2 separate regions of the Homo sapiens genome follow, and region 1 is linked to region 2. Evidence: fine-mapped expression QTL. A gene starts in region 2. The other region holds a variant in brackets. All regions are shown on one strand. Distances are from middle to middle.

Region 1 (4,385 bases), 55 kb before region 2:
GCGAAACCCTGTCTTCGACAAAAATACAAAAATTGGCCGGGTGTGGTGGTACATGCCTATGGGCCCAGCTACTCGGGAGGCTAAGGCATGAGAATTGCTTGAATCTGGGAGGCAGAGGTTGCAGTGAGCCAAGATTGCACCACTGCACTCCAGCCTGGGCAACAGAGTGAGACTCTGAAAAAAAAAAAAAATACAAAAATTAGTCGGGTGGCTGGGCACGGTGGCTCACGCCTGTAATCCCAGCACTTTGGGAGGCTGAGGTGGGTGGGTCACCTGAGGTCAGGAGTTCAAGACCAGCGTGGCCAGCATGGCGAAACCCCTTCTCTACTAAAAATAAAAAAATTAGCCAGGCATGGTGATGCGCGCCTGTAGTCCCAGCTACTCAGGAGGCTGAGGCCAAGAATTGCTTGAACCTGGGAGGCAGAGGCTGCAGTGAGCCGAGATCACATCACTGCACTCCAGCCTGGTTGACAGAGCAAGACCCTGTCTCAAAAAATAAAAATAAAAGGCGGCCGGGCGCGGTGGCTCACGCCTGTAATTCCAGCACTTTGGGAGGCCGAGGCGGGTGGATCACAAGGTCAAGAGATCGAGACCATCCTGGCTAACACTGTGAAACCCTGTCTCTACTAAAAATACAAAAAATTAGCTGGGCATGGTGGCGCGCACCTGTAGTCCCAGCGACTCAGGAGCCTGAGGCAGGAGAATCACTTGAACCAGGGAGGCGGAGGTTGCAATGAGCCGAGATCGCGCCACTGCACTCCAGCCTGGGTGACAGAGCGAGACTCCGTCTCAAAAAAAAAAAAAATAAATAAAAATAAATTTGATTATGGGCTGGGCGCGGTGGCTCACGCCTATAATCCCAGCACTTTGGGAGGCCGAGGTGAACAGATCATGAGGTCAGGAGTTCAAGACCAGCCTGACCAATATGGTGAAACCCCGTCTCTACTAAAAATACAAAAATTAGCCGGGCGTGGTGGTACAAGCCTGTAGTCCCAGCTACTTGGGAGGCTGAGGCAGGAGAATCGCTTGAACCTGGGAGGCAGAGCTTGGAGCGAGCCAAGATCGTGCCACTGCACTCCAGCCTGGGTGACAGAGTGAGACTCCGTCTCAAAAAAAAAAAAAAAATTGATTATGAATTTTACCTGTTTGTAGAACACAGATTAAATCATCAGATATTTCTTGTGAACTGTAACTCCTAATTGAAGGGAAAATGATCTAACGGGTTGCTTTTCAACGAAGTAAGTTCCCTGGTTAGTATTAACCAGAATATCCCACACTCTGAGTGTGCTGGTTAATCAGGATTGAATTTTTTTTTAACTCCTAGTTATCTGAAAAACAAAATCCCATAGCTTCCCTTCACACTAACATATGAGCATCCTAGGTGATTCTGATACTTCTAGGTAGCAGTCTAACTTCCTAGACTGCTTTGAAAGTACTGTGTGTGGTTAGGAAGGGAGAAGGAAAGGGAGTGGGGTAAGTTGGGGTCTGGAATGGAGTGGGGGATGTAGGATTGAGAAGAGTTAGGAATGAGGAGAGCATTGAAGGGAAAAACAGTCTGGGAAGAATATTGAATCTGTTGACCATAATGTTCAGGGTCTTTCATTTTGAACTAAATGTTTCACTATTAATTTGAAATTTAAAACAGTAAACAGATGTAAGTCTATGTAGACTGTATCTTTTTTTTTTTTTTTTTTTCATTTTTGAGACTGAGTCTTGCTCTGTTGCCCAGGCTGTAGTGAGTGGAGTGGTGCAATCTCCGCTCACTGCAACCTCCCCTTCCTGAGTTCCAGTGATTCTCCTGCCTCAGCCTCCCAGGTAGCTGGGATTACAGGCGTGTGCCACCATGCCCGCCTAATTGTTTGTTTAATGGAGACGGGGTTTCACTGTGTTGACCAGGCTGGTCTCGAACTCCTGACCTCAAGTGATCTGCCTGCCTTGGCCTCCCAAACTGCTGGGATTACAGGTGTGAGCCACTATGCCCGGCCTGACTTTATCATTTTAAATTCCATTGTATGGAGCTAATCTTTAATAAAGCACAATAAAAGGATACACATACATCTTTATATGCTGGCACAATTATACAAATACGGAAAATAGTTTAATA[T/C]CACCAAATAATATCACCCAACTTCTAGGTTTGTTTTTTTTTTTTTTTTCGTTTTCTTTTTTGGGACTGACTCTAGCTTGTCTCCCAGGCTGGAGTGCAGTGGTGCGATCTTGGCTCACTGCAACCTCTGCCTTCCGGGTTCAAGCAATTCTTCTGCCTCAGCCTCCCGAGTAGCTGGGATTACAGGCACGTCCCACCATGCCCATTAATTTTTTGTATTTTTTTAGTAGCGATTGGATTTCACTGTGCTGGTCAGGCTGGTCTCGAACTCCTGACCTCGTGATCCGCCCGCCTTGGCCTCCCAAAGTGCTGGGATTACAGGCGTGAGCCACTGCGCCTGGCCACTTCTAGTTCTTTTGGCATATATATGTGGGTTTATAAATTGTTTACTTTTGTTACCAAGTTCTCATTCCATTTAACTGATTCTTACATAAGTGAGGGTAGCAAATAGGCAACCATATTTCCTGCCTCCTGCAGTTTTGGTAAATCTAGGGGGAAAGTCTGCTTAAGTTCCCTGATTTCTTACATTCCTGTGGTGTGTTTAGAAATACTACATGTTGAGCTTTAACAAGACAGTAATTTTCTTAGTTAATTGAAATCTTAGAATTGAAAGTTAGAGCTGGAAGGGACTGAAGTTATTTAGTACAACTGCCTTATTTTCTAGATGAGGAAATTGAGGTACAGAGAATCACTTAATGAGACAACAGCCAGAGCTGAGGCTAGTTTTACTAGTCTAGGGTGCAACCTGTTTTAACTAGGGACTTGAACAATTCTTTAGATTGTTAAAAATGTATTCGAGCCAGCCTGGTGGCTCACGCCTGTAATCCCAGCACTTTGGGAGACTGAGACAGGCGGATCATGAGGTCAGGAGATCAAGACCATCCTGGCTAACATGGTGAAACCGCATCTCTACTAAAAATACAAAAAAATTAGCTGGGCGTGGTGGTGGGTGCCTGTAATCTCAGCTACTAGGGAGGCTGAGGCAGGAGAATGATGTGAACCTGGGAGGCAGAGCGTGCAGTGAGCTGAGATTGTGCCACTGCACTCCAGCCTGGGTGACAGAGCGAGACTCCGTCTCAAAAAAAAAAAATGTATTCGAAAAGGTGTTTTTGATTTAAGATTTAATGCTCTAAAACTGACAGATGTTTATAAAACATTTATAAAAATGTTTTATAAACTAAACATTTATGGGAATAGAAATGGGAAAAGTTTTATAAAAACTGACCTCTACAACGTAGAAAATTAGACACTTCTGGGCAACCTACACCATCATGTTTATTTTCTATTTGCTCTTAGATTGAAGTGCCCGGTTTTGCTCTTCTTCAGAGCAAACTGTGGGATTATTCCTGTTAATAATTTGGATCCTTGCAATTTCTAAAAGGCTTATAACTTAGGGTTTAGAGAACAGTTATGAGGCATTCTCATTGCTAAATCATGCTCTGGGGAAGTCTGCCATTTAATATGTCATAGACTAGGGCTACCTAGTTGTTACTGATGGTGTTTGAGCTGAAGAAAATGCGTGTGTGTTTCTGTAAGGTAAGAGGAGCTTGACATTCACTAAGGAGATAATGAGGCATTGACAGGCTGTTTTGTAAGAGTTGAGATTGTTTGCTTCATTAATAGGGGTTTTTGAAGATCCAAGTTTTCTCCTTTCTGGCTAGTAATAATTGTGTAGTATTTCCCCTTTAATTGATATGACTTCATCCTTAAAGAAAGATAATAAAATCACTTCCTAGAGGCTTACTCCTTTTTCAGCTTTTGCCTTCCTGCTGGCAAAAGTATCTTGTTTTGGCCAGGCGTAGTGGCTCATGCCTGTAATCCCAGCACTTTGGGAGGCCAAGGCAGGCAGATCTCTTGAGCTCAGGAGTTCAAGACCAGCCTGGGCAACATAGGGATCCCCCATCTCTACAAAAAATATGAAAATTACCTGAGCATGGTAGCACACGCCTATAGTCCCAGCTACTTGGGAGGCTGAGGTGGGAGGATTGCCTGAGCCCGGGAGGTTGAGGACGCAGTGAGCCATGATCACGCCACAGCACTCCAGCCTGGGCAGTAGGGTGAGTCCCTGTCAAAAAAAAAAAGTATCTAATTTTACCCCCTTCTCTGATAGTTATTTTACTGTAAAATTTAACCTTTTTGCAGTATGTTCAACTTCTTGGTACGATGTAGAAAGAACATTGGATGTGAAATGTTGTATGATACATGTATATATCACTGTACAAAATGAGATATATTACATGATTGTGGAAGATTGCAGCTTCCATGGTGTTCACTTAGTCTG
Region 2 (4,385 bases):
GGCTTAATACCTAGCTGATGGGTTTATTGGTGCAGCAAAATTTGTGCAGCAAACCAGCATGGCACACATTTAACTATGTAACAAACCTGCACATCATGCACATGTACCCCAGCACTAAAAATAAAAATTAAAAGAAAAAAAGTTTAAAATATTTCAAATGCTTTAGTTTAATATGACATATTTGGCATAAAATTTATTGTCTTAAATTTTTTTGTATCCCACTTTTTTTTTTTTTTTTTTTTGAAACAGAGTCCTGCTCTGTTGCTTAGTCTGGAGTGCAGTGGCATGATCTTGGCTCACTGCACCCTCTCCCTCCCAGGTTCAAGCGATTCTCATGCCTCAGCCTTCCCACTAGCTGGGATTACAGGTATGTGCCACCATGCCTAGCTCACTTTCTTTCTTTCTTTCTTTCTTTTTTTTTTTGAGATGGAGTCTCGCTCTGTTGCCCAGGCTGGAGTGCTATGGCGTGATCTCGGTTCACTGCAACCTCCCGGGTTCAAGCGATTCTCCTGCCTCAGCCTCTCAAGTGGCTGGGATTACAGGCACATGTCACCACGCCCGGCTAATTTTTGTATTTTTAGTAGAAACGGGGTTTTACCATATTGGCCAGGCTGGTCTCGAACTCCTGACCTTGTGATCCGCCTGCCTCGGCCTCCCAAAGTGCTGGGATTACAGGCGTGAGCCACTGCGCCCGGCCACTTGTATTTTTTTTTTTTTTTTAAAGGCTGGGTACGGTGGCTCACGCCTATAATCCCAGCACTTTGGGAGGCCGAGGCGGGCAGATCACGAAGTCAAGAGAGCGAGACCATCCTGGCCAACATGGTGAAATCCCATCTCTACTAAAAAATAGAAAAATTAGCCGCGTCTGTAGTCCCAGCTACTTCGGAGGCTGAGGCAGGATTATCGCTTGAACCCGGGAAGCGGAGGTTGCAGTGAGCCGAGGTCGCACCACTGCACTCCAGCCTCGTGACAGAGCGAGACTCCGTCTCAAAAAAAAAAAAAAAAAAAAAAAGGGAGGCCATTGTAGGGAGGCCATTGTAGCAATTCAGGGGAGAGATGAATCCAGGCGACAGATGATGGGAGGTTTGGAGCAGGGAAGACAGAGAGAAGTGGAGAGATTCCAGATATATTTGAGAGACAAAACTGATAATTTGGGGTAAGGGAGGTGAAGGAGGCAGAGGGATCACGGACGCCCTCCTTGGTTTCTGGTTTAGGCTACTTGACAGATGGCGGAGCTATGCAATTGAGAGAGGGAATCCTGGGAGAGATTATGAAATCTCTGTATCTTCCGCAAGAATGTTTGTTTGCTTCCCTTGCGAGTGTAAGACGGAGCCGGGAACATTGAGGCTTGGGGCTGGGACTCAGCAGCTCTTCTGCCCTTGCCGAGAACTCTGTCTATATCTGTATTACAACACTTACCATAGTGTATTCATTTTACAAGGTATTGCACCCAGTGAACCATGAGGTAAGAGAGCAAGGGAAGAGTTTCTTCTCGGTGTCTCTAGGACTTTGCCCAGCAGCTGGCCCCGCCCCCTCCAGCGCTCTCCGCCTAGCCCCGCCCCCAGGAGATTTCCGGCTTCTCGGTACTGGCCTAGCCGTAAAGGGCTCCGCTCCGCCCCTAGAGCAACCGTTTCCTCCTCAGTCGGACCAGAGTGATTGATTAGTTTGTTGTCTAATCATCAGTCGAGCGGCCACATAATTACCAATTAGGCAGTAGCAGAGGCGGGTGCCGAAGCACGGGGTCTGGGTGACTAGGAAGAGCCGAGACTGCGAAGGAGAACGCAGCAAGCCCAGGCGGCGGTGGAAAGGTGATGGGGTATCTGGATTCCATAGGTTTTTCCTTTTCCCCTTGCTAGGTCAAGAGTCTCTTCGCAGCTTGGGGCTAGGATCTTCATTTGCCTTTTTTCTTTTTTGGAGGAAGGGGGCTGTGTCCACATATTTAAGTATTTGAGGTTCTTGGGCAACTTCCTTCTTACTTCGCCTCGAGGCGTATCCTTTTTTTAGCCTGAGGTGGGGTCCTCCCCAGGGAGAGAGAAAGTTGTTTGAGATCCTTTCTTACTCTGTGCGTGGTTAAAGGCCTCCGTACTCAGTTCCAGGGAAAGGGAGATGAGTGATGGTGGGGCCGAGACTCGCGGGTACTGCCTACTTCCGAAGAGTTAGACGCTTCCACCTGGGTGGAGGGGCCCTGGGAACTAGATTCCTGTGTTAGGAACCAAGTAGGTATTGAGGGCGAAGAAACAAGTGGAAAGAGACATTTCTTTTCTTTTCTTTTCTTTTTGAGACGGTGTCTTGCTCCGTCGCCCAGGCTAGAGTGCAGTGGCGCGGTCTCGGCTCACTGCAACCTCTGCCTCCCGGGTTCAAGCAATTTTCCTGACTCAGCCTCCCGAATAACTGGGATTACAGGTGCCCGCCACCGCGCCCGGCTAATTTTTAGATTTTTAGTAGAGACGGGGTTTCACGATGTTGGCCAGGCTGGTCTCGAACTCTTGACCTCGTGATCCACCCGCCTCGGCCTCCCAAAGTGCTGGGATTACAGGCGTGAGCCACCGCGCCCAGCCAGAAAAGAGACATTTCTTATGTGGAAGTTGTGGTAGTTCTCCAGGTAGGAGAGCCTACTGTGGGGTGGAAGACGTTAGGGCTGGGCTCCGGTGCTAAGTCCACTTCCTACCTCTAGACCGTCATCTTTTTTGCCTCATTTCTTTCTCCTCAGGCTGGAGGACACACCTAAACATGTGGAATCCCAATGCCGGTAGGTGTTTGGGGGTTCTGTTCCACCCCTAACCCTTTTTCTGATGGGCTCTATAACAGGAAGTTTCTGTATCAGCTCCCCTACCCCCGACCTGCTGTACCCGCAAAAGCAAAGTCCTTAGTCTAGAGCTGACCAGTGCTTTTTAATTTAATTTAATTTATTTATTTTTTGAGATGGAGTCTCTGTTGCCCAGGCTCACTGCAACCTCCGCCTCCTGGGTTCAAGCGATTCTCCTGTTTCAGCCTCTGGAGTAGCTGAGATTACAGACGCATGCTATCACGCCCGGCTACTTTTTGTATTTTTAGTAGAGATGGGGGTTTCACAATTTGGCCAGGCTGGTCTCAAACTCATGGCCTCATGAGATCTGTCCACCTCGGCCTCCCAAAGTGCTGGGATTACAGGCGTGAGCCACCGCGCCTGGACTGACCAGTGCTTTTGTCTTCCTCAGAGTTCACTGTCTCCCTCCTCTCCCTAGCCCTTCCAGGGACATTCCCCCTTTTCTCCCCAACTCAAGTTTGTCTCCCCTACCCTCCATTCTTCTTTGTCATCTTTCCGTTTCCCTTTAAGTATTGAGTGAGAAAGAATCTCTTTCTTTTTGTTGTTTGTTGTTGGAGACTCTGGGGAATTCTAATGTTTATTCTCTGCTTCTTCCACCAGGGCAGCCAGGGCCAAATCCATATCCCCCCAATATTGGGTGCCCTGGAGGTTCCAATCCTGCCCACCCACCACCTATTAATCCACCCTTTCCCCCAGGCCCCTGTCCTCCTCCCCCAGGAGCTCCCCATGGCAATCCAGCTTTCCCCCCAGGTGGGCCCCCTCATCCTGTGCCACAGCCAGGGTATCCAGGATGCCAACCGTTGGGTCCCTACCCTCCTCCATACCCACCGCCTGCCCCTGGAATCCCTCCTGTGAATCCCTTGGCTCCTGGCATGGTTGGACCAGCAGTGATAGTAGACAAGAAGATGCAGAAGAAAATGAAGAAAGCTCATAAAAAGATGCACAAGCACCAAAAGCACCACAAGTACCACAAGCATGGCAAGGTCAGTACCCTCTGGAGACTGGCTAGGGAAGGAGTCCCCCCTCAGAGGGACTAGGTAGGCAGGGGTTGGGTGAGGGGGATTCACATTCTGTGGACGTGAGGGATGACAATTGTGTCGCTCTGGTAGATGATTCTTCCTTTTTATAAAAGATTGCTACTGGGAAGAATCTGATTATCTTGAAAATAAACATCAGGCTTCTCCTATCTGGGGGGAGTTAGGGTGAGCCTTAGAATGGATTTTAGAATCAAAAGCCAAATCTTTTCTGCCCTACTCTCCCAGAACTTTTGCTCCCCTCCCGCCAGGTGCATATTCTAGCAAGTTGGACACGCCCACTGACATTGTCAAAATACCAAAGTCATTCCTTTGACAAAGCAAGGTCTTATAATAATTAACAGAATTAATCTGTCCCTAGTTCCAGAAGTTCCTTCTCTCTTTCATCAGTGTTCTTAGGGCGTTGTGTTAATTACATGGGTCCTTTGCCCTATCATCCAGCAGAAAAAGTGAGGACAAGAGCAGTCAGTGACTAGGCTTCTAACAAAGCCTAGGACTAAGGAGGTTTTTTTTTTTTTTTTTTGAGACGGAGTCCCGCTCTTTAG

Evidence for each region. PIP is the estimated chance that this variant, and not a neighbour inherited with it, causes the effect. A credible set is the group of variants that fine-mapping cannot tell apart.
Region 1: its variant is the best candidate, but not a certain one, in a credible set for the expression of PRR13 in subcutaneous fat (GTEx, PIP 0.85).

Annotation. Positions count from the first base shown.
Region 1 is chr12:53,384,804-53,389,188 of GRCh38, forward strand. All of the region lies in intron 3 of SP1 (Sp1 transcription factor), which reads left to right. Among named protein-coding and RNA genes, the nearest start is that of SP1, 6.8 kb to the left of the region's middle. The variant T/C (reference allele first, on the strand shown) is at 2,105.
Region 2 is chr12:53,439,985-53,444,369 of GRCh38, forward strand. It overlaps PRR13 (proline rich 13), which reads left to right and starts at 1,750. Exons shown (of 4, transcript NM_018457.4): 1 at 1,750-1,808; 2 at 2,711-2,749; 3 at 3,407-3,789. The coding sequence starts at 2,731. RefSeq lists enhancers at 722-1,487, 1,218-1,307 and a silencer at 1,598-1,747.